Linked DNA regions of Homo sapiens: regions 1, 2 and 3 are each linked to region 4. The links come from fine-mapping of genetic effects on gene expression. A gene starts in region 4. Each other region holds a variant in brackets. All regions are shown on one strand. Distances are between the middles of the regions.

What was found. PIP is the estimated chance that this variant, and not a neighbour inherited with it, causes the effect. A credible set is the group of variants that fine-mapping cannot tell apart.
Region 1: its variant is the best candidate, but not a certain one, in a credible set for the expression of LINC00989 in whole blood (INTERVAL, PIP 0.74).
Region 2: its variant is the best candidate, but not a certain one, in a credible set for the expression of LINC00989 in visceral fat (GTEx, PIP 0.66).
Region 3: its variant is the best candidate, but not a certain one, in a credible set for the expression of LINC00989 in whole blood (INTERVAL, PIP 0.52).

What each region holds. Positions count from the first base shown.
Region 1 is chr4:79,509,365-79,517,491 of GRCh38, reverse strand. It overlaps LINC00989 (long intergenic non-protein coding RNA 989), which reads right to left. Exons shown (of 4, transcript NR_038826.1): 3 at 3,590-3,707. Among named protein-coding and RNA genes, the nearest start is that of LINC00989, 21 kb to the right of the region's middle. The variant C/T (reference allele first, on the strand shown) is at 4,042.
Region 2 is chr4:79,566,991-79,575,117 of GRCh38, reverse strand. All of the region lies in intron 3 of LINC00989 (long intergenic non-protein coding RNA 989), which reads right to left. All of the region lies in intron 1 of LOC107986294 (a long non-coding RNA gene), which reads right to left. Among named protein-coding and RNA genes, the nearest start is that of LINC00989, 78 kb to the right of the region's middle. The variant A/G (reference allele first, on the strand shown) is at 4,452.
Region 3 is chr4:79,437,998-79,446,124 of GRCh38, reverse strand. No RefSeq gene overlaps it. Among named protein-coding and RNA genes, the nearest start is that of GK2, 34 kb to the right of the region's middle. The variant A/G (reference allele first, on the strand shown) is at 4,345.
Region 4 is chr4:79,488,328-79,496,454 of GRCh38, reverse strand. It overlaps LINC00989 (long intergenic non-protein coding RNA 989), which reads right to left and starts at 3,862. Exons shown (of 4, transcript NR_038826.1): 1 at 3,681-3,862; 2 at 2,870-3,303.

The DNA of each region.
Region 1 (8,127 bases), 21 kb before region 4:
GCAAGGACAAAAAAACCAAACACCGCATGTTCTCACTCATAGGTGGGAATTGAACAATGAGAACACATGGACACAGGAAGGGGAACATCACACACCGGGGACTGTTGTGGGGTGGGGGGAGTGGGGAGGGATAGCATTAAGAGATATACCTAATGCTAAATGATGAGTTAAATGGGTGCAGCACACCAACATGGCACATGTATACATATGTAACAAACCTGCAAGTTGTGCACATGTACTCTAAAATTAAAGTATAATAATAATAAAATACAAAAAAAAGAAAGTTGACAGTTTCATCCATGTAATTTTCTCTTAAAATGTATTTCACTCATGCCAGCAAATAATACTAGGTAAAGCACTGTCCTTTCACATCCCTTAGAAACTGTTGCTGTAAAATTATTTATTAGCAAAATTGAAACCATCACTTCAGATTTCACTTATACATTTTCACATAGCTCACCTTCAGTGTGATCCTATATTTATGCCTGTCTAAGCTCAATATCTTTCAATATTTACTTATTCAATTTAACATTTACTGAGTACCTTTTTGTGCCATAAAACATACTGGAACGTGGCATCTGCCTTGTGTCTTGAGGATGCTATATAAAGAGATAGATAAATATAGATGTAGATGGGAGCATTGATTTATAAAAATAAATGCAGAAATGAATATGTAAAAATAAATATAATAAGGTGATAATACAGTGTGGATATTTAGAGAGTACAGAGCTTATTTTGAAATGCTTTTTATTTTAATATATTTATCTTATTATTTAACAACTATTTATTTGTAAGCCTGGCATTACTGTTGTCATAATTCTTACATATTATAGAAACTTCAAAACAGAAGTGATTCCTAGATTCTGTTCAGTGTTAGAAATTGTTATTAGATTGAAGACCAATTCATGTCTTATGGAACAGCTCCATTTTCAGAAACGCACAAAAAATGTCTACCAATCAAATCCCAAAGAAGATCCATCATTCATTTATCTTGAAAAAATAAAACTTGCTCAGTTTAAGCTCTTTTATACTATACTTTTTAATTCTCTAATTCCAGATTATTTCTATTATTTTCTTCTCCAAATATAGTTTTTTTAATTTACTTTTTTAGTTGTTTTGGAAATAGCTGTGTTTTCTTTTCGACAATCTGAAAGCTGATTCAGGTGCTTTACTCTCAAATGAAAGGTCAGCATTTCTAGATTTCCCTCATGCAATTTTCTAACATTGTTACCTATTTTGTTTCAGTGTTAGGAGTTCTCTGACAAAGAATTTTAAAAACCAACCAATCCTAGGACATAGTGCGAAGGGAAAGAGGAGAGAGGCTAACTCTCTCTACCATTTGCAATGAAATCTCTGCTAAAGCTTCCTAGAAGTTGGTATGCCCAGTCCATCAGGAGTCATATTGTCTGATACTCTCTTAACTGAAATCTCGACTTCTTTATTACTTTGTGAAGCTCCTACAGCCACGTTAGATGAATTATCTGAAAAGCTATTAATAGGTTCATTCTGAATCCACCAAATAATCACATGTCCTGTCACAAGTCCATCAACGCTGGACTCATTGAAAATTCAAATCGTAAATTGTTTGCCAGGGAAATATGTGATCTATTTTCAGTGTGTGCTGGTGTTCAGTAAGATGCTGCAAAACTAGAAATAGAACACCTATTTTTAAATTGAACATAATATTTTCTTGAGCCACCACTAGATTCAATGCACTGCAAACAATGCAAATATGAATAAGACAAGCCTAACTCTCAAAGGTGGAGATTTCGAACTGATAGCACAGGATGTGTTTTTAAGACATGTGTTAAACAATCCTGTACATAATAAATGGTAGAGAATTTTGGTAAAGGGAGAATGAAGGGCTCATGGGTTCAGGGTAAAAAGGCAATTAAAGAAAGCTTCAAACATAGGTGACATTTGGGTTTGTCTTCAGGGAAAGACAGTGAGTGGAGAATATTTCAAGCAGCAGAAATCAAATGAGCAATAAAAGTAGAAAAGTGCAAATGCCTGATAAACATTTACTGAATGAAATGGTCCTAGCAACACTCAAATCTTTTTTCTTTTTTCTTTTTTTCCTTTTGGCAATGGTAAGGATTTCCTCATCTTAAACTCTGAATTTTGGGGATGTTGAGTGTATTTTATCACTTTTTATAACTGATTTCCACAGATAAAGTGGTTGTTTCCATATCTATCCATCTGCTAATCAAGGATCATTTTGGAATTAAGTGTAAGGAAAATTTTTTTAAAAAAGGAGACCATGAAGCTGTGTTACATCTTGAAGTGCATTAAAATATAAAAACAAAAAATAGGAACACACTCCAAATGACTCATTTGTTTTCCAGTATTCCAGAACTTAGTGACAATAACTGGCAGTAGAATAATTTCACAGTGTCATCCTGGTGGAACATAGGGTTCTCATAAGAATACATTTCTATCTCCTTCAACATCACTATTAAAATGACTTATTTGTTTCTGATTAATTAGGACCCGGTTGCTTCCTTCTTGGCATTGCGTTTTTCCTCCTGTTCATCTTCTGGACAGGCTAGATCTGCGTGGGCATGTACCAGTTTGTGAGATTCTGGATCAGAACTCAGTGGCTTTGCAACAGTGATAAACCTAACTTCTGGTAACTGTGAATTTGTGTTCCAAAGTGCCACAAACCGCATGGTAAGATGCCACAAAAAGGAGCAGTAACTAGGTCGAGGTTTTGGCAGTCTCCACGGAGCAGTAGCTCCAATACTGGCATGCCAGTGATTAAATAGAACTAAGAAATATTTTTTCCTTATCTTCCTTTAGCAGAACAAAAGAGCTCAGATTAACTGGTGAGGAGTGCAGAAGAAAAAAGAAATCTTTTTAGAGAAGAGGAGTGTAACTGCCAACTATCTAAAATCTAATTATTTATGTCCAGTATGAACAGAACTCAAATAAGGGTACATACCATGGGTATAGCCAGAGTGTGTGTGTGTGTGTGTGTGTGTGTGTGTGTGTGTGTGTGTGTGTGTGTGTGTGTGTGTGTTGGGGGAGGGGTTTCTGTTAGAAGGGGGAAGAGGTGTGTCTTCTCTTGCTTTCCCGCAATGCTGTCATAGCCTATGGTTTGCAGCTGTCAACAGAGTCTTCAGAATAATGCCATTTCCCTAATGCTATCATAGCCTATGGTTTGCAGCTGTCAACAAAGTCTTCAGAATAATGCCATTTCCCTAGTACTTTTCCTTAGATCATCATTAGGTAAGTGCTAAGACATTTGCTATTTTGGAAAAGCAAAGCAATGTGCTAGACTTGGTAGTATAACACTGAACTCCAGGAGAGGCTAAGCCTCCTTCCTGGGAGCATGATAGGAAGTTCACTGTAGAGCACACTAATCATAAGTGTCATTGCTGTTCATGTTTTTCATATTTGCCCCATGCAAAGATGTACCCAACTCCCTAATTCTGAGTGTACTCTTTCCAATGAGTTCATGACTCCCAATAATTAAAAACTAAATATGCAAGAAAGCAAAAGACTAAAACAAAACTGGTGAGCAAACAATTGAAAAAAAAAGCATTGAGAAAGCTAATTGACATGCTTTGTAAAATGCCAGAATTATTACCTTTCTGTGTGTTTAGAAAAGAAATTATCTTAAAATGTAACACTTCTTTCTCTATTCATCCTAGTGAATCCAGTCGACAGGATTTAGCGCTGGGAAGAAACCCAGAAGGTTTGAAATCCTGTAAGAAAGAAAAGTATATTTTTAGAATTATGGTAACAGCTGCTAAGAAATGTATTTCTATTTTGTAGTTAGTCTGAGCTGCCTAACATAAATGTGTGGTAGAAAAAAGATAACAGAGATAAGGCAAGTGGAGAGAATTATAGCAAAGTGAACACTATCTTTGGTTGTTGTTGAAGGAAAAATTGAGTACTAAAGATGGCATTTTATCAAAATAAAACTATATATTGTACATCTAAGAGCTAGAATTAGATGTCTATCCTCTCCCTCTCTCTCTCTTTTTCTCTCCATTCTTCTCCTCCCGTCCTTGTATTTCTTATCTATTTTTAAATCTT[C/T]TCCTAATGGAATCTTAGGGAGTATTAACATAATAATATCGATCTCATTAAAAACCACCTTCTAATGTTCCCAAATCTGCTACCAATAGTCAAATACATAACCTATCAAAATTTTACATTAAAAATAACAAAGATATTTAAATAAAGCTCTAAAAAGTCAATTATTTTGCAAATGACTAAATAAAAATTTTATTATTGTTTATTTTCTCATGCAATTTTTATTTCTTAGATTTTATTTTTAAAGTATAGGGTAAGTACAAAGTACAAATAGAAATAAAAATGCATTGCAATTTCTTCACATAATGAAATGGGTATAATATTTCATATTTTGTCTGCCTGTGATTGGGTTTGTTAAAAAATAGTGACATCGGCCATGCACAGTGGTTCACGCCTGTAATCCCAGCACTTTGGGAGGCCAAGCAGGCGGATCATGAGGTCGGGAAAGCTAGATCACCCTGGCCAACATGGTGAAACCCTGTCTCTACTAAAATACAGAAAAGTTGGCCGGGCGTGGTGATGCACGCCTGTAGTCCCAGCTACTCGGGAGGCTAAGGCAGGGGAATCCCTTGAACCCATGAGGCGGAGATTGCAGAGAGCCGAGATTGTGCCACTGCACTCCAGCCTGGTGACACAGCAAGACTCTGTCAAAAAAAAAAAAAAAATATATATATATATATATGTATATATATATGTAGTGACTTCACATATTTGGGAAATGGTTAAATATTATCAAACATAATATATATTTGTGTTATGTTTCTACCTCTTGGGCTTATTTTGTCCTTGGATTTGATGGAAAGGGCCACTTCTCCATATGAAAGAAAATGGATGCTTTTTCTTTGAGGACTTTTCAATCTAGTCTCCACTGGGAAACAGCCTGGGCTTGGTATCAAAATGACATAATGTGCATGTGGTTTGTTACCTAGGGGCTGCTATAGAAATTTAATTTATTGTCTCATAAATTAACTACATTAATAACATACATATTGTTGTTATGGTTAGTAACAATTATTAAATGAATACCTGGGAGGGTCAATGTTTTACAGGTTGAAGAAATCTCAAAAAATGCTCTTAATAATTATTCCTTGGTCTAGAAAAACACATTTTAATTAGTCCTTAATTTTGCTCTCCTAGATTTTCTTGGAAATATTCTATGGCTTTTTCTATATTCCATACACACATATAAAAGCCAGCACACCATATTTTTCTCATTCATATCCTAGACGATGAAATTTACCATCATTATCAATGATTACTCCTTCTACTCCCTTCCCCAACAGCTCAAATGTATGTGCTTATTCTCACTCCCTTTCTCTTTCACTGTGTCCTTCTTGTGCTATGCTGTTCTGAGCACCATAATTTTTACAAGGGAAAAATAAGTGGCTAAATAGTATTGGGACCTTTGAAATATTGAGCAATAATGATACATACATCTGCATGTACAAAATACCTATTTTCAGAAATACACTTTATGAATCAGAGAGAAGAGGATGAGAAAATAATATTCATCATGGTGGAAAGTTTGAAAACTGAAAGATTGGTTGAGAGATCAGACTTATTTGAAAAGAGCAGATTTTTTAAATGGTGACAATTCATTTAAAATTGCCACTGTTTAACTGTTTTTCTTCTCTCCCTAAATCCCTCCTCTTCACTGTGATGTATTCCATAGATCTGAAAGGGTACTCCTCAGAGGACTCAAAAGGTTTTTGCAATTTGTTTAACACATAGCTCACCTCCAACCCCCATACCACAACTTATTCCAGATTTTACAATGTTATTTTTCTCCTCTACTGGCAACCATTGAAGAAAAATAATTAATAATAATGTTGTTTGTATTTGACCATGATATATGCCCAGGAGCCACTTAAAAAAATACTGTCATCAACATGGTAGCCTGGGATAAGATGATTATAGGGAATCTTTGCACTTTATTGTTAGAACCATGTCTTACTCTTCCTTATACTCACAGCATCTATCAGAAGGACTAACGTAGCAAGAGATAGTCAAATATCTGTTGCACCAAATTTTATTTAATTTTTTATTTCCATTTTGAAATATAAATTGAACATTTCAAGTTTAATTTTCCCAATCAGTACTGTTTACTGAATTCCAAACATTTTCTCCCCAAATTAGTTACATGATCTAACAGAGACCAAAAAAAAAAAGTATAAAAGCTGGTCAACTGAAAGCCAGTTATGGACATTTGGTTGTTAATCAAAACATTATCTGTTATGTATTGAGTAATTCTATATGTTAGGGACTGTTTTAAGTGTTTTACATATTTAACCTCATTTAATCCTCAAAACAAAAGTATAAGGCAGGTACGATTATTATTTCTAATTTACAGATGAGGAAATTCAGGCACAAAAAAGATAAGCTACTTGCCCAACAGAGAGAGTCAGGATTTGAATCAATGAAACCTAAATAGAGAGTGAACAAATTTAAAACTAGACTTTCAGGTTTATATGACAACCTGGGACAAATTTGATTTTGATTTCCACAGTAGATAGTAGTATATATTTATATGTTATAACAGATTTGGTTTCCACAGTAGATAGTAACATATATTTATAATACCAAACAGGACACAAAGTTTAATTATTTAAACTTTCTTTTTCTATACTGTTCTGACCACCATAATTTTTACAAGGAAAAAATAAGCAGCTGAATAGTATAAGGACCTGTGGAATATTGAGTAATAATAATACATCTGCATGCACCAAATATATATTTTCGGAAATATACTTTATGAATGAGATAGAGAGAGGAGGATAGGAAAATAATATTCATCATGGTGAAAAGCTTGAAAACTGAAAGATTAGTTGAAAGATCAGATTTATTTGAAAAGAGTAGATTTTTTAAATTGCCACAATTCTCTTCTCCCTGAATTTGAGTCTCTGCTACTTCTCCCATCGAGAGAATTCTATTTCTCCATTTCTTGAATTGAATCTTGTAACTTGATTTGGCAAATAGAATGTGGTCAAAAGGATTTGCCAGTTCTGAGCCTAGGTTTCAAGGAGTTTTCCGTGATTCCACTCTTGCCCTTGGAGCCCTACAACTACCATATATAATCAAACCCTGCCTACCCTGTTGGTTGTGAAGAGAAATGTGGTCCAGTAGCACTATCACTCCACCCAACAACCAGCCAACTCCCAGAAACAGAGTCACCTAGATGACCTGCTAACTAAACATAAATGCATGGGCAGGTCCAGTCAAGATCAATCAGGCCTGGATCAGATCAACACAAAAGTCCATCTGATCCACAGACTTGTGAAAAGTAATACATTGTTATTATTTTAAGGATCTAAGTTTTAGAGTGGTTTGTTATGCAGTAATAGGTAATGATACAGCATGTATTACAATGACTTAGATATTGGTAGTCCCGCTTTAATGTGAAAATGTGCTTGGTATTTTCCTGGAATGCCATGACTCAATATCACTCATTTTTAACTGTTTAAACTTTTTTAACAAATCAAAATGAAAAGAAAATTTGCTTATCTGAGAAATTTCAGCTTTGCTGTCTACGGCAGTGGCATTACCATAATGATTTGTCATGCAATTTTATTTTCAAAGCCCAAAATTAATTACAAACATGAAACAAATCATGGTGTTAAGACATACATTAAAAACAAATTATGATCTCAAAATGCATAATTTACAGCTTGGAAAATTAATTGATTAAACCCAAAGTGCATAAAAATAATTGGAAAAACTGAGGACTGAACAAACCATTGACAATATTATCTAACCGAGCAGAGAATAATGTATAATGAGCAAAACTCACAGCCAAAAAAAAAAAAAAATCAATAGTCTAATTAAATCATAAGAACCTGGGTGAAGATAAGTTGAAATTCCAGTTTGGGGATATCTCTATATTACAGTGATGGGCACAAGAAATCAAATCCCATCTTTCCAATGAAGTCAAAATAGAAATTATAATATTGACATCAAAATCAATCATAATTTTTTAAAAAGATGTGCAATAGATTTTACATATTAAAGCAGCACTTTACACACGTAAGTAATTTAAATGTGCTCTATCAGTTATCTATTACCATTTATTCTATTCTTTTCATGTTCTTTTGA
Region 2 (8,127 bases), 79 kb before region 4:
ATTAATCCTAACTATCTCGGCTCTCCAATCTCAACAGCTATGTACTATGATGTTCATAAAGAAACTAAGATTCAGAGAGGTTAAGCAACATGCAAAAATCATCCATTAGTAAGCGACAGCCCCAGAATTCAAATCCACGCTTTCTAAGTCTTAATCCTGTGCTTGTTTCACGGCTCCTGTAACATTAGATAAGAAGCTTACCCTTGCTCTGCAAGGGTTCATATAAAGATTAGGATACTTCTGCCTATAAAACATGAGATAAAAATATAATGGCCTCATAGACTGAAACGATACACAATTCTAAATAAAAATCAATTCTTTATTTTGATATTCAAAGTCACCTACTCTTTATGACCACTACCCTCATTGCAAATGCCCCTATTCTGATGTGCTTTTCCATTAAATAAGATTTACACCATCCTTCTTTGGAGCCTTTGCTCATGCAGACCTTCTCACATTCCCTCTATTTTATTTCTCATTCATCCAATTCTCATTCATGCTTCAGAACCTTGCCTCTAACACCTTTCACCAATTAGCTCAGGTTTTCCTCTGACAGCTATTGTTGTAAACCTCTCAATTTGCATTTATGCATTCTTCATGTTATTTGGGAATTTTGCAAGTGGATATACAATTTTCACATGTCTGGATAGTAATCTCTTGAGATTATGAGTAGTCTTCACTATATATGTAGATATTAAGTGAGCTTATTTATATCAGATATAGACCATACAATCTCATCACTTATAGATGCTTTTTCACTGTATTGATAGATTAATGCTCCCCTTTAAACATACCTCTAAACTACTCAAACTCTATAAATGTATCTCCATATATCCCTGCAATTCTCTTTTTGAAACTAGAACAAATTAAGGGAATTGTTTCTAAAAATTTGAGCTTGAGGTAGAAAAGAGGAAGATGAAAAAATAATAAGTAACATTTTAAACTTTTTCTTACTCTGTTCTATATTCAGAAAATGTTTTAATGATACAATTTTGACATCAGTAGCAAGACAAATTTCCTTTCTTTTAATCACCAAGTCAAAGAATATTTCCATTGAGCTGGTTTCAATGAACAGAGAACTCATATATTTCCACTGACTAACAAAGGAATATTGACATCAAACATATATATTTAATTATGGATGAATATCAATACATGAGCATGGAGTCCTTAGGAAAATTACAAATGCCGAAGTACTTTGTAGAGTATTGCATAACTGATTTTATCAGGCAGAATAGCGGATGGATCTTATGCTCTAAATATTTAAATTTTGGGGACAACAAGTTTTCTTTCATGGTCATCATTTTTAGAAATCTTTCTATAACTTAGGGAAGTGTTATAAATAATACAGAGTGGGAATATCCTAGGGAGAAATGAGAATTTCTGATTCTAAGAGGGACAGTAAATAATTTCATCTCATGTACCAAATCTGAGTGGTTGGCAGTGGCTGTCGAGACTTTAGAGTGCTATGTTGATGAGGATTCTGGGTCTGGGGCCAGGCTCTGTCATGTCATGAGTGATTAGTAATGTTTGCAATAAATGCAGAATTGTAAGGGAAAGCACATATCATATTTTGCCACTGCTGCTGTATTGCTGAGATTCTGCCATTTTTTTGTTCTTCTTTGGTGTCCAGGAAGGGCTTAGACCCATGAATGTTAACATTATAATGCCATATGGGGACATACAGTAAAAACACATGAAAACCTCCATGTTCGGGGTATGCCTATCCTGGGATATGAATGGTAGTAGATCCTAGGCAGTGTTGTGTGAGTAACCAGATTGCCAAAGTGATGGGGCGAGGGATGGGGAGAAGGCATTTGCTGGTTTCCATGCTGTAAAGACTTTTGCCCTGGCTGATTCCAAGCCACCAATGTGAGGTCATTAAACTCAGAGCTGGAAAGACATGTGTATAGCCCAGGCCAGTATGAGGAGGCTACAGCCAACCAGTAATTATAAGTGAACTTCTAGGGTTCAGGGTGCTGAGTAAACCCTGGGCCATAGAATGGAGGATGGACATAGGGATCCAAGGAAGGACCAGAAGGCCATAGACAGATCAGCTGTGTGCAGCTGGGGAACAGTATCAGCTATAAATCAGAGCTCAGGCCAACATTTCAAAGTTATAACAACATAAGAATCAGTTTCAATGCCACCCTCCAAAAACATACATTTTACCTTATCTACCAATATAATGCATCTTCCAGGTCCATATGCTGAGACAGCATAGTATATCAGTAATGAGCATGTTTTTTGTTTTTGTTTTGTTTTCTTTTTTGAGAGGGAGTTTCGCTTTTGTTGCCCAGGCTGGAGTGCAATGGTATGATCTCAGCTCACCGCAACCTCCACCTCCCGGATTCAAGTGATTCTCCTGCCTCAGCCTCCCGAGTAGCTGGGATTACAGGCATGCGCCAACACGCCCAGCTAACTTTGTATTTTTAGTAGAGACAGGGTTTCTCCATGTTGGTCAGGCTGGTCTCAAACTCCCAACCTCAGGTATCTGCCCGCCTCAGCCTCCCAAAGTGCTGGGATTACAGGCATGAGCCACCACGCCCGGTCCTAAGTGCATGGTTTTTAGAGCCAGACACCATGGGTTTGAGTTCTAGCTCCACCATGTATTAAATATTAGCTCCGAAACCTTGAGAAAATTACTTAACCTCTCTGTGCCTCAGTTTTCTCATCTATTAAAATAGGGATATTAATAGTACCATCGGGTCATTTAAAATTAAATGACTTAGTAACTGTAAACCGCATAGAACAACATGTGCATTTACTGCATGGAGACTGATGCGTAAGTGCATAATAAAGGTACATAAAATGTAGATTTGCAACTTTTATCAAAATATCATTTTCAGTATATAATTTGCCCTTGAACTTAGGACAGAGGCACAGGATAGCTATGATAAAAATGCTCACTAGTGTAACTGATTAACTCTACATTTATAAGCATAACAATTTCACTTGTCTTTCTATATCATCCCATTTATCTTGGGAAGATAAGTAGGAATAACAATTATAATAGCAAATATACACCATTTTTAAAGTTCCATTTTATAGTAATTTAGATTTTTTATGGCAAATTTAGTAACAAGGCCAAAATTGAGATGTTTTTATTCTTACAGATTTCATTTTACATTGAAAAGTGGCACTGTTTTTCTTATGTTGAAGAGTTTACTGAAGAAACTTCATATCAGAGATTTAGTGTTTTAATCTATAACAGATTGTGCATATAATAAAGGACATTTTTTCCTATTGGAAATCTAAAAAATATGTCAATTTCTCAAACATAAATTCGTAAAATAAAAATTCTGGCAGTGGTCAAGCTCATTATACCACAATGATCCTGTTTTCCTCAGCAATAGATTTAACCTTCTAACTTTGTAAATTTCACATTTAGCCAAGTTTTTAGCTAAAACAAGTTGAAATACAGCAGAAAGAACCTTTCCTGCCAGTTCTATTCAGTAGCATGTTAATCAGATTGCAGTAATAAGTATGAAACAATGCATGCAATTAGCAGTGGTTAATTTGAAACTACTTCATGTCAGTTTCTTTCAGAGCAATACGTTAGTAGAGTAATTATTTATTACCCTGAGGACATGATCAATGATATCCTTCCATAATAACGTCTGCAAAAAGAGTAGGCATCTTCATTTGCATAAAAAGGAAGCTATAGAAACTGTTTTTTTTTCAGCTAAATAAAAGCAGAAAACTGTTTCTAAGCTCTTTCCAACCATTTCGTTAGTAGTAATAGATAAGCAAATCATTTGTTACACTTCAATATTTTTATGGTAACATAATGGTGAGGGGAAAAAAACAGCATTAATGATTTAAATCCACAAAGACTATCTTTACTGAGAAAGAGGAAAATGACCCATTTCTAAATGTCATTGTTGTCATTAATGTATATGTGCTAGTCCCTTCCACACACATGATAATTCACTAGTTCCTTAGCTGGAGCTTGAGGATAGAATTTATGGCAAGCCCTAAGTGATAGCAAACACGTAGTCTACACAGCTGAGCCATGGTTGAGCAAAGGCAAGAAAAAGATGTCAGTTTAACCAGGTGGCCACAATTAGATGGAGCAGTTAAATAATCGGGAAGGTGATATTAGAGGATACCATCTTGGCTTTCAGAGTCCACTGTGTATTAGGCAAGAAATCCTGTATGTCTTCATATCCAATTAATTCATCTTATTATATAAAATACCCATCTTTCTGAGGAGGACAAGAAAAATATCTCACCTTTGGAAGTAGTTAGTCTGGACAATGGAAGAGAGGAGACTGAAAAATGGAATAGGCTGGAAAGGCCTAGTACAGCAGAAATTGTTAGAAGGTGCACAAGTCTGAGAAGGATCCTCCACATTTTACAACCCCAGGGGCCTCCATTCATTTGGAGAATGGCATTCTACCAGTTGGGCAGTTGACAGCCTGCACATCTACATGTAAGGGACCCAAACT[A/G]AGACAATGATTTGGGGCAGAGGTCGAGGTCAAATTTCAAAGTAGGAGGACCAAATGAAAGACACAGGCAGGTTTTAGAGTTCAAGTGAGGTAGGGGTCTACAAATTCTATTCAAGATGTCCTCAGTATTTAGCCATTTGTGGAAGGATTTGTAGCTCTAATAGAGTCAAAGACAAAGCTAAACCGGTGAAATTACCAGTCATATTGTACCTTATGTACAGAAAGTCAGCAGAGTATCATGTGTGGAAGAAAGAAATTTTCAAATGTATAAAATGAAAATAGCCGGGCGCGGTGGCTCACGCCTGTAATCCAGCACTTTGGGAGGCAGAGGCAGGCGGATCATCTGAGGTCGGGAGTTCGAGACCAGCCTGACCAACATGGTGAAACCCCGTCTCTGCTAAAAATACAGAATTAGCTGGGTGTGGTGGTGCATGCCTGTAATCCCAACTATTCGGGAGGCTGAGGCAGGAGAATGGCTTGAACCCAGAAGGCAGAGGTTGTGGTGAGCCGAGATCGTGCCATTGCACTCCATTCTGGGCAACAAGAGCGAAACGATGTCTCAAAAAAGAAAAAAGAAAAAGTGAAAATAATAATCTTTAATAAAAATATTTGCTTTTAAAAGTTTTGAAAGGATTACATGAGAATTGTGTACATGGTGGACTTCTAGGTTACAACCGCTCAGCTCCTTTTTGTTTTTCCAGGAATAGTGTTCCCTTTCTATGAGAGCCATCCTCCTTCCACACCATCATTTCTGCTGGGTATTGTTATACTTGTATATTACTCAGGCAACTTGATCCTATATTATCAATGTGGGTATGGGAGCTACCTGCCCTGTCAGGCTAGTTTGAATTCCTTTTTGCAATGTTTTGCATTCAAATAGGGAAAGAAAGTAGCATCTGGTGTGGTACCCGTGAAATGTAAAATGAAGAACTGTCAGCAGCAATGTTACCTATCATATGGAGGAAGATGGTCTGCAGTAGGACAGAGGAGAGCTGGCATGGAGAGTAGGAGAGAGAAAGTCCTGATGAAATTCAGTTCCCTATCATTTTATTTTTATTCTTTTAGGGACAGGGTCTTGTTCTGTCATCCAGGCTAGGGTGCAGTAGCATGATTATAGTTCACTGTAACCTCGAGCTCCTGGACTCAAGCAATCCTCCCACCTCAGCTTCCTGAGTAGGTAGGACTACACGTGCACACTACTATGCCCCGCTATTTTTTTTTTTTTTTGTAGAGATAGGGGTCTTGCTATGTTGCCCAAGCTCTTCTAGAACTTCAAGCAATACTCCCAACTTGGCCTCCCAAAATGCTGGGATTACAGTCATGGCCTGTCCGCTTTATCATCTTATACTTGAGGCCCAGTGGAACCCTTGCTCTTCCTGAAGTTTATTTAGTCAACTCTTCTTTCAGTATTGTTACACACTCCAGTGTCCTTTCAATGAATCACCTTCTCTCCTTAAGCTACTTTGAACTAGTTATCTGAGTAAAGCAGAATGCACTATACTCTGCTTAGCATGAAACACATACTAGGTCTAAAGAAAAGAAAAGTTGAAGAAGAAAAATAGAAAAAAGAGCAACATATTGAACATAAAATCCTATTAAGCTTATAGATAGTTCTTTGTAGATGAGTATTTAATTGCTTTCTAGTTGTTTCAGGTATATTAATCACGCTTTACTAAATAGTATTTGACTCTTTAAAATAAGATAATATATATTGTATATTAACTTATCTCAAATAATATCCACTACAGTTCCAGCCTAAAAATAGTGAACAAAAAAAAGTAATTAATTTATCTAATAATTTGCTTTTGTCCATTCACTTTTTAACTTTTCTAAGACTCTGGGTTAACATTTAATGCACCAGAAGTAATAACTTCCTAATGATGTGTCAATGATAGACAAGATCTAAGGTACCTTTGGGGAGCCATTACCACTTTTCCATCAGATTTGGCACAATATGTGCATGACTCCGTGTGTTACTAATTTGACAAGAATGGTTTCACTTCATGAAAACCTGAAGCATAAAGTAGAATTTGGGGCAGCTTCTTAGTTTATCCACAGCCAATAAACTTAGTAAAAGCTAGAGTAATAGCCAAGTCCCAGACATCTAAGGAAAAAAGTCCTGAGAATCAAGTTGTTGAGATTTTTTAGACTTCTCATCCAGTAAATGGGATAAGTACAGTTAGCAGCAATAGCGAAATGTTTCCTACTTGATTTTATTAACTGATAGATATGAATTAATGCATTAAGATATTTGATTGTGTCATAAAATGTGTATATGAGCATCATGATTCAATTTAATGTACCTATTACTGGTTGATGTGCCATTATATTAGGCTAAATTAAAATATTTTATGGAAAAAAAATTAAAGACTCAAAATTGATTGCATTCATAACTTAAAAGAAGATATTCTGTTCCATTAATATTTTGAATAATTAAAATAATATATCAGAAAACAACATGGAAAAATTGAGAGGTAGACAAGGTAAAACAAAAAGAAGTAGATATAAAGTCAAAAATAAAGTTCACTTTCTATGTTAAATCAATATTTTCTCTTTAGCTCAAGTTTTTAAGAATGAAAGAGTAACAAAAGTCACATGGTTAACTGCTTGTCTCAGCAAGTAAGTTTTAGGTCACATTGTCATAAAAGATATGAATATCCCTCCTTTCCTCTTCCAAATTACAAAACAAGTTGATTCCAAATACAGCATTTTAATTTTTTAAAATAATGTTGTCATAGATAATAAGATGATACTTTGAACAGACCATGAGAACTCTCTTAATGCAACACGTGCCTTATGAAGTGTGGCCATTTGTCTAGGACTGAGGGATTTCTGTGTCATGAGACTTTCAGTGTTAATATGAGGACAATCCTCCTGGCAAACTGAGGTAGTTGGTCATCCTACATGAGCAAATTACTTAGCTTATTTGTAAACATAAGTATCCAGGAGCAGACTTTTTTTTTAATGTTGTGATTTACCCTTGAAGACTTAAATTTTCTTCTCTCTCATTTTAAGTAGATAAAGGCTGATTACTATAAAGATATATGGCATTGACATATTGGGATTTTTCTAAGATTTCTTATTTCTCTTAATTCTAAAGATCAGGAAATATTCTACTTTTCCTACTGGTAGTGTGGTCCATGGACCAAAAGCATCAGCCTGACCTAGGAGTTTATGAACAGTTCATAATAATAAAATTAAACCCAGGCATACTGAGAACACAGAATCTATATTACTAACAAATTCCCAGATGATTCATATATGCAGTAAAGTTTAAGAGGCACTGATCTAAATTCTTTTAAGAATTTTCTAAATGTACTCCAATTTTTCTCTATTGTCAACTCTTTTGAATTCCTGTCTAGTCCACTACAAAGCCAATACAGCCTCATTAGCTCAGCTGCAATTAATTTGAGATGTGTAATCATTTGACCTGGGTTGGACTGACAATTTTGCCCTGCAACCCTTGCCCGACATATGAAAAGGAGTTATCTAAGTTAAGAGGGCAGAGTTGGAAAAACCTACCTTTTTAACTTGTTAACAAATTAATTCTTCGCAAAGTATTGAATGCTATCTGGAAATTAAAATAGTCCTAACAGGACCTTTATTTGAAAACTTTTTGTTTGCAGGCAATTCAAATTAGTGAAAGAAAGAAAACTATATGGGATTAAAAAATATT
Region 3 (8,127 bases), 50 kb after region 4:
ATCCACATACACATACCTTGTGTCATTCTTTCTTTCTGTGTTGTCAACCTGATTAGTCTTCTATTAATGGAGAGAAAAAGAAGAAAAAAGCTATAAACAGACATTAATAAAGTCACTAGTCAGCTTGAGTAAAGATATGGGTTTATTGTTTGTCTTTTTAGTTAGTTAAAAGAAAGAGAGCAAGGTATCAACTATGCAAAGACCAAAGAGACCCCAATATACCTTAAATATATAAATATTTAAGCAGATTGCCCCCACACTTTTTAACAACATACGCAAGTGTCTCCTTTAGCTCATAAGAGCCAATTTTCCCCCGTGGATTTCCAGTACCCAAAGTCTCTTTGTGGTGATTAGTGGATTCCGTGCATCCCTGGGCCTGACTCCAATCACTTTCTCCTTGAAAATTGCTGAAACTTGATGCAGCAGCACAGCACAGGGCAGGTTTTGTCACTGGGGCTTAGTCCTCATTACAGCCCAGAGACTTCAGGAGATTGTTTATGTGGCTGGAACATCTTCCTTGCGGGTGGCTAATTAGTGTTTCCCCAGGGCTTCTGCTCTGTGAATACTTAAGGGTAATCATCACCAGCTAACTGTGTGGGGAGTGTATCTAAGCAATTTTACCGAGTCAACTGACAACAGCTTGAAGTAATATTAGCCCTGTTACATGAAGACAAGTGCTCTCCACCCAGTGAAGCCGGAGACTGGCACCACTCAATAAATCACTGCAGCATCCTTGAAAGCTTAGCATCGGTTCTGAGCCATTAATTTCAGTGAGGTCTTTTGACAGGATGTTTTGAAAGCATGCAATGAAAGCATGATTTCTTGAGCTAAGTTATAAAGAGCAAATTCTTCTAAGTTATGAACCTGGCAACCCATTTAGGTCCTAGGGCTATCAAATATATCTTTTGATTTTTTTTTTAAATCAAAGAATCTTATCATTCAGTATATAGAGAATAACCCTCCTTTAAACAAGAATATAATATGGATACCTACCTAGACTCTACCTTAATAGAATTACCTGAAGTTTCAAAAACAGGTATCTGAACATTTGGATAAGACAAGATATGCATGAAATTTCCCTCTATTGTCCAAACTAATGTTACCAAAATTGCTACTTGATGACAAAATAAGTTTATCCAGAAAACTGAAAGTGAAATGTCGGAGAATAAACTTATAAAAGCTATACTAAGTTAAGCTGGGCACAGTGGCTCATGTCTGTAATCCCAGCACTTTGGGAGGCCAAGTGCCAGGATTCCTTGAGGCCAGAAGTTCGAGACCAGCCTGGGCAACATAAGCAAGATCTTATCTCTACAAAAACATTTTTTAAAAAATTAGATGGGTGTGCTGGTACACGCATTTAGTCCCACTACACAGGAGGTTGAAGTGGGAGGATCCCTTGAGTCTCCAGGAAGTCAAAGCTGCAGTGAGCTATGACTGTACCAGTGTACTCCAGCATGGGCAACAGAGCTAGACCCTGTCCAAAAAAAAAAGAACATGTTAAGAATGAGAGCAGTGACAGCAGTCTTACAAGGGCAATGTCCAATAAGAATCTTGCATTTAAGTAGCACTTTTTTTTGTTTCACAAATATTATATGTCTTACTATCAACAAGCACTCTAGTAGGTACTGGGATATAAAACATTTCGGGGAATCTCGTAGTAAAAATATGTTAATCCAGGAGATTGCAAGACAACTTTCTCTATAAAATAGTCAGTTTATCATTTCATGCAATGTTTTAAGAGTGACCACCGTCCATACCATGAGATGTATGATAATTTGGGTAAAGGGGAATGGGAGGTTGGTAAAGATATAAGAAAAACAAGACACAAATCTATGTTTGTCTCTCTGTTTGCCTATATGTCATCTGTCTCTCTATTCATCTACCATCTATTATCAATTGTGATGGTTAATACTGAGTGTCAACTTAATTAGATTGAAGGATGCAAAGTATTGCTCCTGGGTGTGTCTGTGAGGGTGTTGCCAGAGGAGATTAACATTTGAGTCAATGGGCTGGGAAAGGAAGGCCCCTGCCCCCATAACCTGGGTGGGCACCATCTAATCAGCTGCCAGTGTGGCTAGAATATAAAGCAGGGAGAAAAATGTGAAAAGACTAGACTGGGCTAGCCTCCCAGACTACATATTTCTCCCGTGCTGGATGCTTCCTACCCTCAAACATCGGACTCCAAGTTCTCCAGTTTTGGGGCTTAGACTGGTTCTCCTTTCTCCTCAGATTGCAGATGGCCTATTGTGGGACCTTGTGATTGTGTGAGTTAATACTTAATAAGCTCCCCTTCATATATATATATATATATTCTATTAGTTCTGTCTCTCTCTAAGAACCCTAATACATCAATCTATCTACCTATGAAACAACAGAAATGAGAGATGCTAACTTTAGTTAGAAATGTAAAAAGCATTAATTATATATCAAAATAATTTATACTTTTTTCAGGAAAGATAGACTTGTAGTTATTTTTTCAATGATGTGGGGTAATCCTATTTCTTTTCACAATCAATGGGTAAAAATGAAAAATATAAATCTTTTTTTGAAAGAGTAGGTTTTGAAATTAAATATATAATCAGTTTCAAGTCTCAAACTAAAAGAACAGATATTAATATTTTAGAGCCTAAGAGTAAAAGAAACCTTAATTTTGGTGCCATACTTCATAATACGTATTTAATAAATATAATAATGTACAATGAGGCAGGGCTAGGACCCTTGTGAAGTGAACCATTGGCCAAATCTCAGCAATATGTAGTAATTTAATAATAAAAGGAATATGACTTTGAAAACCTTGTAGCATTAACAAAGTACCAAGATGATTAAATGGCTTTGATGCATTTAAGATAGACAGAGGTATGATAAAAGTAAGTTTTGGGGACCATAGTCATATTAAGTCTATAAAATTCTTGCATACACTTACCCAAAAGTCATTTGCAGCTTTTTCCCTCCAATTAAATGATAGTTCCAAAATGCATTATTCTTTAAAATTATTTTCTATACTTTAAATTAGTTCAACAAATTTAAAATATAAATTTGTATACTAATAAAATAGATTCTAAATTACTCCTTAGTCTATGTTTATTTTAGATTTTTTTCTTTACATAAGGAAAAATAGTTCTGAATTTGTCATTCTTTCAGATGTCAAACAAGAAACTTTTGAACATAAAAGAAAAGCATATTATTTACTTCAAATATAATTTTTAAACTAAGATAAATTTAAATTTGGATATTAATATCCACAGAACACTTGATTCCTTGGCCACTTGAATGAGGAGTTTTCAACGTAATTGTTCATGTTTTTGATAATCTCTGGGACTCCCTCCCTCTCCACCAGTAAGTGCATAATAGGTACAACATATTTTGGATGAGTGAAGGTTTCTGCATTTATTGGCTTTGCTCTATTTACATACTTCATAAAATGGCCAGTTTATTCAGAAATATATGACTAATCACTTACACAATAGTGACAGCATTCCTAACTTCTTTCGCTTCCTTAGAAACCTTCAACACTACTAAATCCAAAATATGTAAATGACCAAGTGTATTAGTCTGTTCTCATGCTGCTATGAAGAAACACTTGAGACTGGGCAATTTATAAAGAAGAGAGGTTTAATTGACTCACAGTTTTGCATGACTGGGGAGGCCTCCGGAAAATTACAATCATGGCAAAAAGTACCTCTTCACAGGGCGGGAGAGAGAAATGAGTGCCCAGCAAAGTGGTAAGCTTACCCCTTATAAAATCATCGGATCTCATGAGAACTCACTATCACAAGAAAAGGATGGGGGCACCGCCCCCATGATTCTATTATCTCCACCGGGTCTCTCCCATGACACGTGGGGATTATGGGAACTACAATTCAGGATGAAATTTGGATGGGGGCACAGCCAAACCATATCATCAAGTACATATAATATTCATTCACTTTTGTTCTTAATTTTGTCTTTAATTTCGTTAAGTTTTCTGTGGATTTGGTGGTACCATTATAAGCCAGATCCTTCACTCTAGGCAGACAAATTTACACAGATATATTGGCTAACAGTGGATTTTATAACTCTGTAAGTTGGACTGAGATGTGTAATAAAAATTAGTAGATTCCCCCAAATATCAATTTAATTGATATTTTTATGTAACTGCTATTAGTTTATTACAGGATTAGTTGCTTGTTTCCTTACTTACTATCAAATAAACAGAGGATACACTGATCTTATTAAAAACTTATGCTTACAACAGTTTCTTATTTTTCAAAATATTTAATTTAGAAATTGAATGCTTTTCAGGAGTAAACCATTAATTCATGATAGAAATACTTCCAGTCCTTTCTCTTTCACCCCAATGTGCAA[A/G]AACTTCAAAAAAAATTTGCCTTTAATCACATATTAAATAGACTTGGCTGTACTTTTAGCAGAAACTGTCGTTTTACAAGAAATAAACTATTTTCTACTGTGAATTTCACATGCATTTAATTCTTCACTTGGTTTTGAGAGAACAGATGATAATTTAATAGTACATTTCTCCCCAAAACACAATATTAAGTGAATCTCACCTCTTTTATGCTTTTTGAATTTTTTAGAGTTTTGATTCCAATTATAAATTCCTTATGCTTTTATTTATTCTTCTCTATGGTTGAAATTTTGTTTGAAGCAAGATAATGGCTTATCCATTAGGTGACCATATGTCTCAATTTTCCTGAGACAGTCCCAGATTATATCTATTAACTAGGCATCCATCCAGGTTAGCATTTTTTCCTCTAAATTTTGTGTTTACAAAATAATTACTGTCATTATTAGATGCATAAAATAAGGCAGAATGACTTACACCTCTCTCCTTTTCTTCCAGAATTTTCCATGATTTCACCTAGTAGTTTGCGAGATGCATTTGCAGCAACATTGTGGTTAAATCTAAAGAGTGATCAAGAATAACCATCTCTCACCTTTCAATATTTTCAACATGCAATATAGCAAGCAACTCTCTTTTAAGGGAGACATACCGAGCATGCAAAGATCAAATAGCTTAAATTGGAAGACCAACAGCCAGGAACAATTAACTCTTTCTGGTATTGGGTGGTAGTGAGGAAAGCATTTGTCGAGGCTAAACCAGATGTTCACTTAGGGTTCTATCCAACTGTTTTGCGGCACATGCCACAACCTAGAAGGTGCATGAAGCCATGAGGCCACCAGTAGTTGAGGTCAGAAGAAATGTACAGGTTACTTTTGTATGCAACTAGCCTGTAACTACAATGTATATAGAAAACAGAGGCTGAGTAAATCTGTTGTTAACTATACAGAGTTGTGCTGTCCAATAGATAGCCACTAGCAATGACTATTTAAATTTAAAATAACTAAAATGAAATAAAACTAAAAATTCAGTTTCTTAACCACATTAACCCCATTTTAAGGACACAATGACCATATTTGGTTAATGGCTATGACTATTGGTATGAAAAATGTGTAACACCCAAAATTAAAGCAACTAAATATATAAAGCAAATATTAACAGAACTGAAGGAAGAAATAGGCAGCTATATTATACTAATAGTAGGGAACTCCAATGTCCCACTTGCAATAATGGATAGATCATCCAGACATAAAATCAGTAAAGAAATAGTGGACTTGAACAACACTATACGCCAAATGTACCCAACAGACTTATATAGAACATTTCATATAACAGCAGCAAAAACACACAATCTTTTCAAATGAAAGTGGCATATTCTCCAGGAGATTGAAATCACATCAGGCATATTTTTAGACCACATTGGTAACAAACTAGAAATCAATAACATGAAGAAAATTGGAAAATTCAAAAATAAGGGAAAATTAAACAACCTATATCCACACAATCAATGGGTCAAAGAAGAAATCAAAAGAGAAATCAAAAAGCATATTTATAAAAAGAAAAATGAAAACACAATATACCAAAATTATGAACTGTAACAAAAGCAACTCTAAGGGGGAAGATACAGTGATAAATACCTACATTCCTACATTAAGAAAGAAGAAAAATCTCAAACAACCTAACTTTACACCTCGGATAATGAGAAAAAGAACAAACTAAGCCCAAATTTAGCAAAAGGAAGAAAATACTAACTTTCAGAGCAGAAATAAATAAAATAGAGGCTAGAAAAGCAACACAAAACATCAAAGAAACCAAGTGTACGTTTTTGAAAAAATAAACAAAATTGAGAAAACTTTAGATAGACCAACTAAGAAAAAAAAGAGCGAACACTTAAATAAATAAAATCATTAATGAAGGAAGAGACATTACAATTGATACCACATAAATACAAAGAATCATAAGAAACTACTATTAACTACTTACAATAGCAAAGACATGGAATCAACCTAAATGTCCATCAGTGGTAGACTGGTTAAAGGAAATGTGGTACATATTCATCGTGGAATACTATGCAGCCATAAAAAAGAATGAGATTATGTCCTTTGCAGCAATATGGGCAGAGCTGGGGGCCATTATCCTAAGTGAACTAGCACAGGAACAGAAAACCATTTCTATACAAATAAAAAAAAGTAAAAATAAGAAAATAAATAAAATAAAATAATTAAAAATAAAAGACTTATAACTAATGAGGTAACTTAGGAAAGTATCACTATACAGAATCAACATACAAAAATCAGTAGCATTTCTATACACTAATAACAAATTATCTGAAAAAATCTGGAAAACAATCCCATTTACAATAGCTACATATAAGTAAAATATAAAAATTAGGAACACATTTAACCAAGGAGGTTGAAAAAAATCTGTACACTAAAAACTATAAAACATTAATGAGAGAAATGGAAGAAAACACAAATAAATTTAAAAATATTCCATGTTCATAGATTGGAAATATCACTATTAAAATTAAATGCCTATTTTAAAATGTTAAAATGTCCATACCACCCAAGCAAGCTTACACATTCTATACAATTACCACCAAAATTCCAATAACATTTTCACAAAAATAGAAAAACATAATCCTAAAATTCACATGGAACCACAAAAGATACCCAATAACCAGAACAACCTTGAGCAAAAGAGCGAAGCTGAACTCTTCACACTTCCTGATTCTAAGGTTTGCTACAAAGCTATAGTAATCAAAACAAAATTTTACTGGCATGAAAGCAGACATGTAGACCAATGAAACAGAACAGGTAGCTCAGAAGCAAAGTAATGCATTTACAGGCAACTGACTCACCTTTGACAAAGATGCCAAGAACACACAAGAGGGAAAAGACAGTCTCAATAAATGGTGTCAGTGAAACTGGATATTCACATGCAAAAGAATGAAATTGGGCCCTTATCTCATACTATAAAGGAAAGGGCTTCTTGATATTGGTCTGGGCAATGATTTCTTGGATATAATCCCAAAAACACAGGCAACAAAAATAAAAATAGACAAATGAGATTGCATCAAACTAAAAAGCTTCTGCTTAGCAAAACAACAAGCAGAGTGAAGAGATAACCTATGAAATGGGAGAAAAATATGTGTAAACCATACCTCTGATAAGTTAATATCCAAAATGTATTAAGAACTCAAACAATTCAATAGCAAGAAAACAAGCAGATTTTAAAATGGGCAAGAGGTAAATAGGCATTTCTCAAAAGAAGACATAAAAATTGCCAAATGGTACATGGAAAAATGTTCAACAATAATCACCAGAGAAATGCAAACTAAAACCAAAATAAGATATTACTTCACATTTGTTAGAATGACTACTGGAAAAAAAGACAAAAAGGTAACAAGTGTTAGTGAGACTGTGGAGAAAAGAGGACCCTAGCCACTGGTGATGGAAATGTAAAATAGTACAGCTGTTATGAAAAACAGTATGGACGTTCCTCAAAAAACTGAAATTAACTATCGTATGATCCAGAAATCCTACTGCTGGATAGATATACAAAGGACATTAAATCAGCTTGTTGGAGATACAGCTGCACTCTTACGTTTATTGTAGCATTATTCCCAAAAGCAAAGATATGAAATCAACATGTGTCCATTGATTAACTAATGGATAAAGAAATGTGGTATATATACACAGTGGGATACTTCTTAGCCTTTAAAAAGAAAGAAATCTTGTCATTTGCAACAACATGGATGAACCTGGAAGACATTATACCAAGTGAAATAA
Region 4 (8,127 bases):
ATAAAATGGCATTGTATTTGCATATAACCAACTCACATTGTCCCCTATAATTTAAATTATCTCCAGGTTATTCATAAAATGTAATACAATGTAAATGCTATGTGAATAGTTGCTATACTGTATCATTTTTTGTTTTGTGTTAGTTTTACTGGTGTACTTTTTTTTCTGACATTTTCAAAGGCATGATTGATGGAAAACATGGATACAAAACCCATGGATATGAAGGACTGACTATAGACTTACAATGCTTGAGTATACTATAAACATAATAATGCTTCAGTTTAGAATGTTGATTTTAGCATCTATTTCCTAAGATGAGAAGAAAAAAATGTATCTTCCTTTGCTCTGAGTGGTTTCATCTTTTCTTTGACATTTTGATAGCAAAAAAGATTTTTAACTCAATTTAATAGTTGTAGGAATATGTCTACTAATAATTGTACTGATTTCTCCAGAACAAAATGAACTGTATATCCAACTCTCTTCAAACTGTCATGCTTATCTCAGTGTGTATGTGTCACTATAAGATGAGAAAGCCTGTCAACACCAACTTCTTCCTTCTAAACAAGAACACTAGGATGTTCATTTCTCATTGAAAATTTGGATTTCTGAGCTGTCTCCTTCCCTTAACTCCTACCCTCCAACACAGAACATGCCTGACATCAGACCCTTACTCCTGAGCCTTTTCCCACTTCATTCACCTGACAGCCTCCTCCACAACAGACATCTTATCAGACGTGACTGATTGCTATAATCTGTACTCTGGGCAGCCATTAAGCAAATTACCTGAATCATTGCAAGGATTAGTCTCATTAACACATGATTAGCATCAAATTAAAATAATGAGTGTTTAACTTCTGATGTCTTCCAGTTGTTTGAACAGCTTGATCAGCCACACCAGGCTGGCAGGGAGGTGGGGGTGTCAAAGAGCCACAGAAAAAAAGGGAGGCAGCACTGTGCAAGACATAGTACAGCTCACCAGTAGAATGAGGTAAGATCAGACTCAAACTGTCTGGATGAAAGGTTTCTTTCAAACAGCAAAGATGCCCGGTCCAAACAGAGGTGTCTCTCTCTCTCTCTCTCTCTCTCTCTCTCTCTCTCTTTCTCTCTCATTGGCACTGTACTCCTAACCATCCATCTGAATCAAGGCTTTACATACTAATGGTGCACAATCTCGCCCGCTCCACATCCTGGATATTTTATTTCCGCTGGGCTTCCCTGTCTCAGGAGCACAGAATGCAGCTTTTCTCTTTCCTTTTCAAAACTTTATCAGACTTAAGACCCCTAAAGTGCTGGGAGTATGGTAGACTGAAGATTAGAGCACAGATCCTCCCGAGTTCCCATATTTGTAGCTGGAAATGGCTGACCAAATATCAAAACAACAGGAAGTTTGCATCAGCTCTGGAAACTGTGAAGAATATCATCCACATATAGAAAGTTAAAATAATCTGCTAGATCCTACATAGACTGGTCCCAACTTACGATGGTTTGACTTATGGTTTTTTGACTTTAAGATGGGTTTATCGGTGTATTAAATGCGTTTAGACTAATGATACTTTTGACCTATGATGGATTCATCCAGATGTTACCCCATTGTAAGTCAAGGAGCATCTGTGCCCATGTCGAAGATTTGATGGAAGCCTAAAGGACCAACTCACTTTTGTCCTACCTGTGGAACATCAGCACTTATGGAAAGTAGGCGGGTAGCTTACAGTGACCCTTCCACTCCAAAACTTAGGGCACCTTATCTGTCTGGTGATGGTCAAGACAATCAGAGAGCCTGGACGAGCTCTTTTTGCCTGAGCTAGTGAATAAAATAAACAGCTGTTGTGATAAATTTCTCTATCATTCCCTTGAAAAAGATTAATATGAGGAGTGTAATGTTATGGAAGAAACAATCTAAGATCAGGAAAAAAATGTGAAGATAAAAATCATTGCTAATATAAACACCCACAGTTAGGTATTTCAGGAGAGGAAAACAACAAATCATTTCCTCTACTCATCTTAGGTTCTCCAGCAGAGGCCCTGTGAATTAGACTAGCCAAAGACAGATTAATTAGAGACAAATAGGCAGAAGTTTTCTCAGTGGCCTTTAACAAAAAAAAATAAAAATAAAAAAAAATTGTATTCCAAAGAGGCTTATTTTGAAGTGATATATTCCAGTACCCCTCAGAATACATTTCTGTCGTATGAAATAATCCCATGAACCATAAAGGAACAAAAAAACAGAATGTCTGTAGATCAGACTTTATTTGCAATATTAAATGCTAAGAAAAACAAAGGTTTACAGAGCTTTGGGCAGAAAAGATTGAGATCCAAGGCATTTTAGTTAGAAAAGCTCATATTTATATGCTAGAGCGACAGAAAGTTGTTTTTAGATACACTAGACTGAGAGGCAATGTCATATAAAATTCTTTGTGAAAAAAACTATTTGACTAGTCACTTAAGTCAACTAAGAAATAAATATAAATAACTCAGCAAATAGAATTCTTAGCTCTATAGAGTGATTAGCTTTAAAATTTCAAATGTAGTACTTACAAGATAAAAATACAAAATATTAAGCTAATAATTAATAATAACCTGGATCTGAAATCTGAGATTATATCAGCAAAACAGTGTGAAGGAAAAATAGTAATGTGAAAATTATGCCAAATGTAGCATCTGAGCTGGAGGGATGTGAATGATAATAGTTACTGTTTTACTCTGTTCATAGATGATGAGAGAAAAATAGACCCAAGTAAGTTTTAAAATGCTTAAAATTTAGAAAATTGAACTTTCTGTGTATCTGTATTAGTCAGGGTTCTCTAGAGGGACAGGACTAATAGGATAGATATATATATAAAGCAGAGTTTATTAAGGAGTATTGACTTACACAATCACAAGGTGAAGTCCCACAATAGGCCATCTGTAAGCTGAGGAGCAAGGAAGCCAGTCCAAGTCCCAAAACTTCAAAAGTGCAGCCTTCCGTCTGTGGCCAAAGGTCCAAGAGTCCAAAAGCTAAAGAACTTGGAGTCTGATATTCGAGGTCAGGAAGCATCTAGCATGGGAGAAAGATGAAGGCCAGAAGACTCAGCCAGTCTAGTCTTTCCAAATTTCTCTGCCTGATTTTATCCTAGTTGCACTGGCAGCTGATTAGATGGTGTCCCCCAAGATTGAGTATGGGTTTGTGTCTCCCAGCTCACTGATTCAAATGTTCATCTCCTTTGGTGACACCCTCACAGACACACCCAGGAACAATACTTTGCATCCTTCAATCCAATCAAGTTGACACTCAATATTAACCATCACGGAATCCTTTCCAAATCCCTAAAAGAAAAAATAATAATAATATAGTCAATATAATAAACATCAGCTAGAAAAGAAATAGGTGAGCAAAATAGAGAATCTCTGACAAGATCAGAAAGAATAATATAATTAGTGTAAAACGTTTTAGTAGTTCAATTAAAAACTAAAGTTTCTCAAATTAAAACATTATTTTAAAATCTTTACTTAATAGAAAAAGACCAAAAGTCAAATGTCAGAGAAGTAGTAAGAAATTTTTTAAATGGCAGAAATATATCATAAATACAAAGAAAAATAAGGAAATAATAGCAATCATAATGTAGAATAAAATATAATTCGAGATAAAATTGGTGAAGAATCACACCAGGAACATATCAGAAAAACCAAAAGAATTCACAGACCATTTGAAATAAGCGGCTTGCCACTGAAAACTCCATGAGACTGCCAAAAAACTGAGTGCCTGAAGTGTGAGAGGGGGAAATCCATCTCCAAACATACATCGGCCCTGGAGAACCTGAAAATCCAGAAGACGGGAGAAGAGTTTAACCTTACCTAGAGCTGAAATGAATTTAGAGAGCCCAGTGAAATAGAAAAGTAAAAGAAGTGGGAAAAGAACTGCAGGCACTCTTGTTCCCCAGGGAAGCCAAGGATAGCCATTTCTGAATTTATCTCACAGGGGTCCTTGAGGAGGGCAGCCAGTGGAATTGGGGAAGGTCCACAGGGAGAAGGAGACTTCCAGCTGAACTTTGTAATAATTTCCAAAGACGACAAATTTTCCTGGGCAGAGTCCAGGGGGTTGGGGTGTGGGGAACGGGAAGTACAGATAGGAGCACAGAAGCCGCAACAGGAAGGGAAGGGTGAGGACTGAAAGCCATGCTTGCTCTCTCAGCAGGGAGTCTTGTAGCCTGGGGCAGGATCTCAGCCCTGTGCACCAGAGGCCTGGGTATAAATTGGGCACTGTTGGCTGCTGGGGGAGTATGGCAGGAATGAGACTGGCCTTGCTGGTTTCATGGGAGCTGGGTAAGGCCTGTCACTGATGGCTTTCCACCACTTACCTGGCAACCTGTAGGAAGCAGCAGAGGCAGCCATAATCTCCCATGGAACATAACTCCATTGGCCTGAGACACACCCCATATCCCTCAAAGTGGCCACTGCAAGCCCAAGGAGAGTCTAGGCTGAGACCTGCCTAACCCTGCCCCCACCTGATGGTTTTCTCTACCCTTCCTGGTAACCAGAGACAAAAGATATAAACTTGTGGGAGCTCTATGGCCTCACCTATTACCTGAGACGACTGAATATTTACCCTGGCCAACTTAGGGCAAGCCTGTATCCCCCTTCTACTACCGCAGCTGATGCTCTCTTAAAAGTGCCACCTCCTGGCTGGAAGTCAACCAACTCAAGCCATTACAGCAACTTAGAACAATCCTACTCCAAGAAAGGAGAAAACACCACCTGTAACACCCTGGCTAACCAGAGGTCCTGAGTCTGTCCACATGACAGCTTCACTGCTAGCAAACCAGCATTCGAGAAAATCTGCACACTAAACAAACTACAACCAGCACTCTCACAGAGTCCACTTTGCTTCCCTGCTACCTCCACTGGGGCAGGTACTGGCATCCACAGCTGAGAGACCTGAAGACAGGTCTTCACAGGATCACATCACAGAAATCTTTGCAGACACTCCCCAATACCAGCCCAGAGCCCAGTAGCTCCACTGGGGGACTAGACACAGAAGAACAATAACAATCACTGCAGTTTTATTCTCAGGAAGCTCCATTTCTAGGGGAAGAAAAAGAACACCACATCAAGGGATCACCCCATAGGAAAAAAAAATCAGATTAGCAGCCCTTGAGTCCCAGATCTTTCCTCTGAAATAGTCTACCCAAATGAGAAGGAACCAGAAAAACAATTCTGATGATATGACAAAGCAAGATTCATTGACACCCCAAATGATCACACAAGCTCACCAGCAATAAAAAACAAACAAAAACAAACAAACAAAAAAAAAAACAAGGTAGTCAGGCAACAACTAGCAGGATGAATAGAACAGTACCTCACATCTCAATAATAACATCGAATGTAAAAGGCCTAAATGCTCCACTTAAAAGATACAAAATGACAGAATGGATAAGAATTCACCAGTCAAGTATCTGCGTCTTCAAGAGACTCACCTAACACATACAGACCCATATAAATGTAAGGTAAATGGATGGAAAAAGATATTCCATGCAAATGGACACCAAAAACAAGCAGAAGTAGCTATTCGTTTATCAGACAAAACCAACTTTAAAGCAACAACAATTTAAAAAGACAAAGAGGGACATTATAGAATAATAAAAGGACTAGTCCAACAGGAAAATATTACAATCCTCAATACATATGCACCTAAAACTGGAGCTTTAAATTTACAAAACAATTACTCCTAGAATTAAGAAATGAGATAAGAGGCAACACAATAATAGTGGGTGACTTCAATACTCCACTGACAGCACTAGACAGGTCATCAAAAACAAGTCAGACAATGGACTTAAACTATGCCCTAGAACAAATGGACTTAGCAGATATATTCAGAACATTCTACCAAACAACTGCAGAATATATGTTCTATTCATCAGCACATGGAACATTCTCCAAGGTAGATCATATGATAGGCACAAAACAAGCCTCAATAAATTTAAGAAAATCAAAATTATATTAATATGCTCTCAGACCACAGTGGAATAAAATTAAAAATCAACTCCAAAAGGAATCCTCAAACCATGCAAATACATTGAAATAAAATAATCTGCTCCTGAATTATATTTTGGTAAACAATGAAATTATAATGGAAATTTCAAAATTACTTGAACTGAATGATAGCAATAACACAACCTATGAAAACTTCTGTGATACAGCAAAAGCGATGTTAAAAGGAAGGTTCATAGCATTAAATGCCTACATCAAAAAGTCTGAAAGAACACATATAGATAGTCTAAGGTCACACTTCAAGGAACCAGAGAAATAAGATCAAACCAAACCCAAACCCAGCAGAAAAAAAAAAAAAAAAAAGAAATAACAAAGATCAGAGCAGAACTAAATGAAATTGAAACAAAAAAATACAAAAGATAAATAAAACAAAAAGCTGATTCTTTGAAAATATAAACAAAATTGATAGACCATTAGCAAGAATAACCAAGAAAAAATGGGAGGAGATCCAAATAAGCTCAACCAGAAACATAACGGGATATATTAAATCCAATAACACAGAAATACAAAAGATCATTCAAGTCTTCTATGAATACCTTTACACACACAAACTAGAAAACCTAGAGGAGATGGATAAATTCCTGGAAATATGCAAACCTCCAAGATTAAACCAGGAAGAAATACTCTGAACAGACAAACAACAAGCAGCAAGATTAAAATGGTTACAAAAAAACATTGCCAACAACAAAAAAAAAAGTCCAGGAACAGATGGAATCACAGCTGATTTCCATCAGACATTTAAAGAAGAATTGGTACAAATCCTATTGAAACTATTCCAAAAGCCAGAGAAAGAGGAAAGCCTCCCTGAATCATTCTATGAAGCCAGTATCACGCTAATACCAAAACCAGAAAAGAACATAACAACAACAACCAAAAAACTACAGACCGATATTCCTGACAAACATAGATGCAAAAATTCTCAACAAAATACAAGCTAACCAAATCCAACAGCATATCAAAAAGATAATCCACCATGATCAAGTGGGTTTCATACCAGGGATGCAGGGATGGTTTAACATCTGCAAGTCAATAAATGTGATACATCACATAAACACAATTAAAAACAAAAATCGTAAGATCATCTCAACAGAAAAATAAAAAGCATTTGACAAAATCCAGCATTCCTTTATGATTAAAACCCACAGCAAAACTGACATAGAAGGGACATACCTTAAGGTAATAAAAGTCATCTATGACAAACGTATAGCCATGTTATACTGATTGGGGAAAAGTTGAAAGTATTTCCCCTGAGAACTGGAGGAAGACAAGGATGCCCACTCTCACCACTTCTATTCTACAGAGGATGGGAAGTCCTAGCCAGAGCAATCAGAAAAGAGAAAGAAATAAAGGCATCCAAATCAGCAAAGAGGAAGTCAATCTGTCACTTTTTGCTGATGATATGATCATATACCTAGAAAACCCTAAAGACTCATCCAAAAAGCTCCTAGACCTGATAAACAAATTAAGTAAAGTTTCAGGATACAAAATCAATGTACACAAATTGGTAGCACTGCTATACACCAACAGCGACCAAGCTCAGAATCAAATCAAGAACTCAACCCATTTTACAATAGCTGCAAAATAAATAAAATACTTAGGGATATACCTAACCAAGGTGGTGAAAGACTTCTACAAGGAAAACTACAAAACACTGCTGAAAGATATCATAGATGACACAAATGGAAACACATCCCATGCACATGGATATGTAAAATCAATATTGTGAAAATGACCATACTGCCAAAAGCAAACTACAAATTCAATGTAATTTCCATTGAAATATCATCATCATTCTTCACAGAACTAGAAAAAACATATCTAAAATTTATATGAAACCAAAAGAGAGTCTGCACGACCAAAGCAAGACTAAGCAAAAAGAACAAATCTGGAGGTATCATATGACTTGACTTCAAATAATATTACAAGGTTATAGCCACCAAAACAGTATGGTACTGGTATAAAAATAGGCACATAGACCAATGGAATAGAATAGAAATCTCAGAAATACAGTCAAATAGTTACAGCAAACTGATCTTCAACAAAGCAAACAAAAACATAAAGTAGGGAAAGGACACCCTATTTAACAAATGATGCTGGGATAAT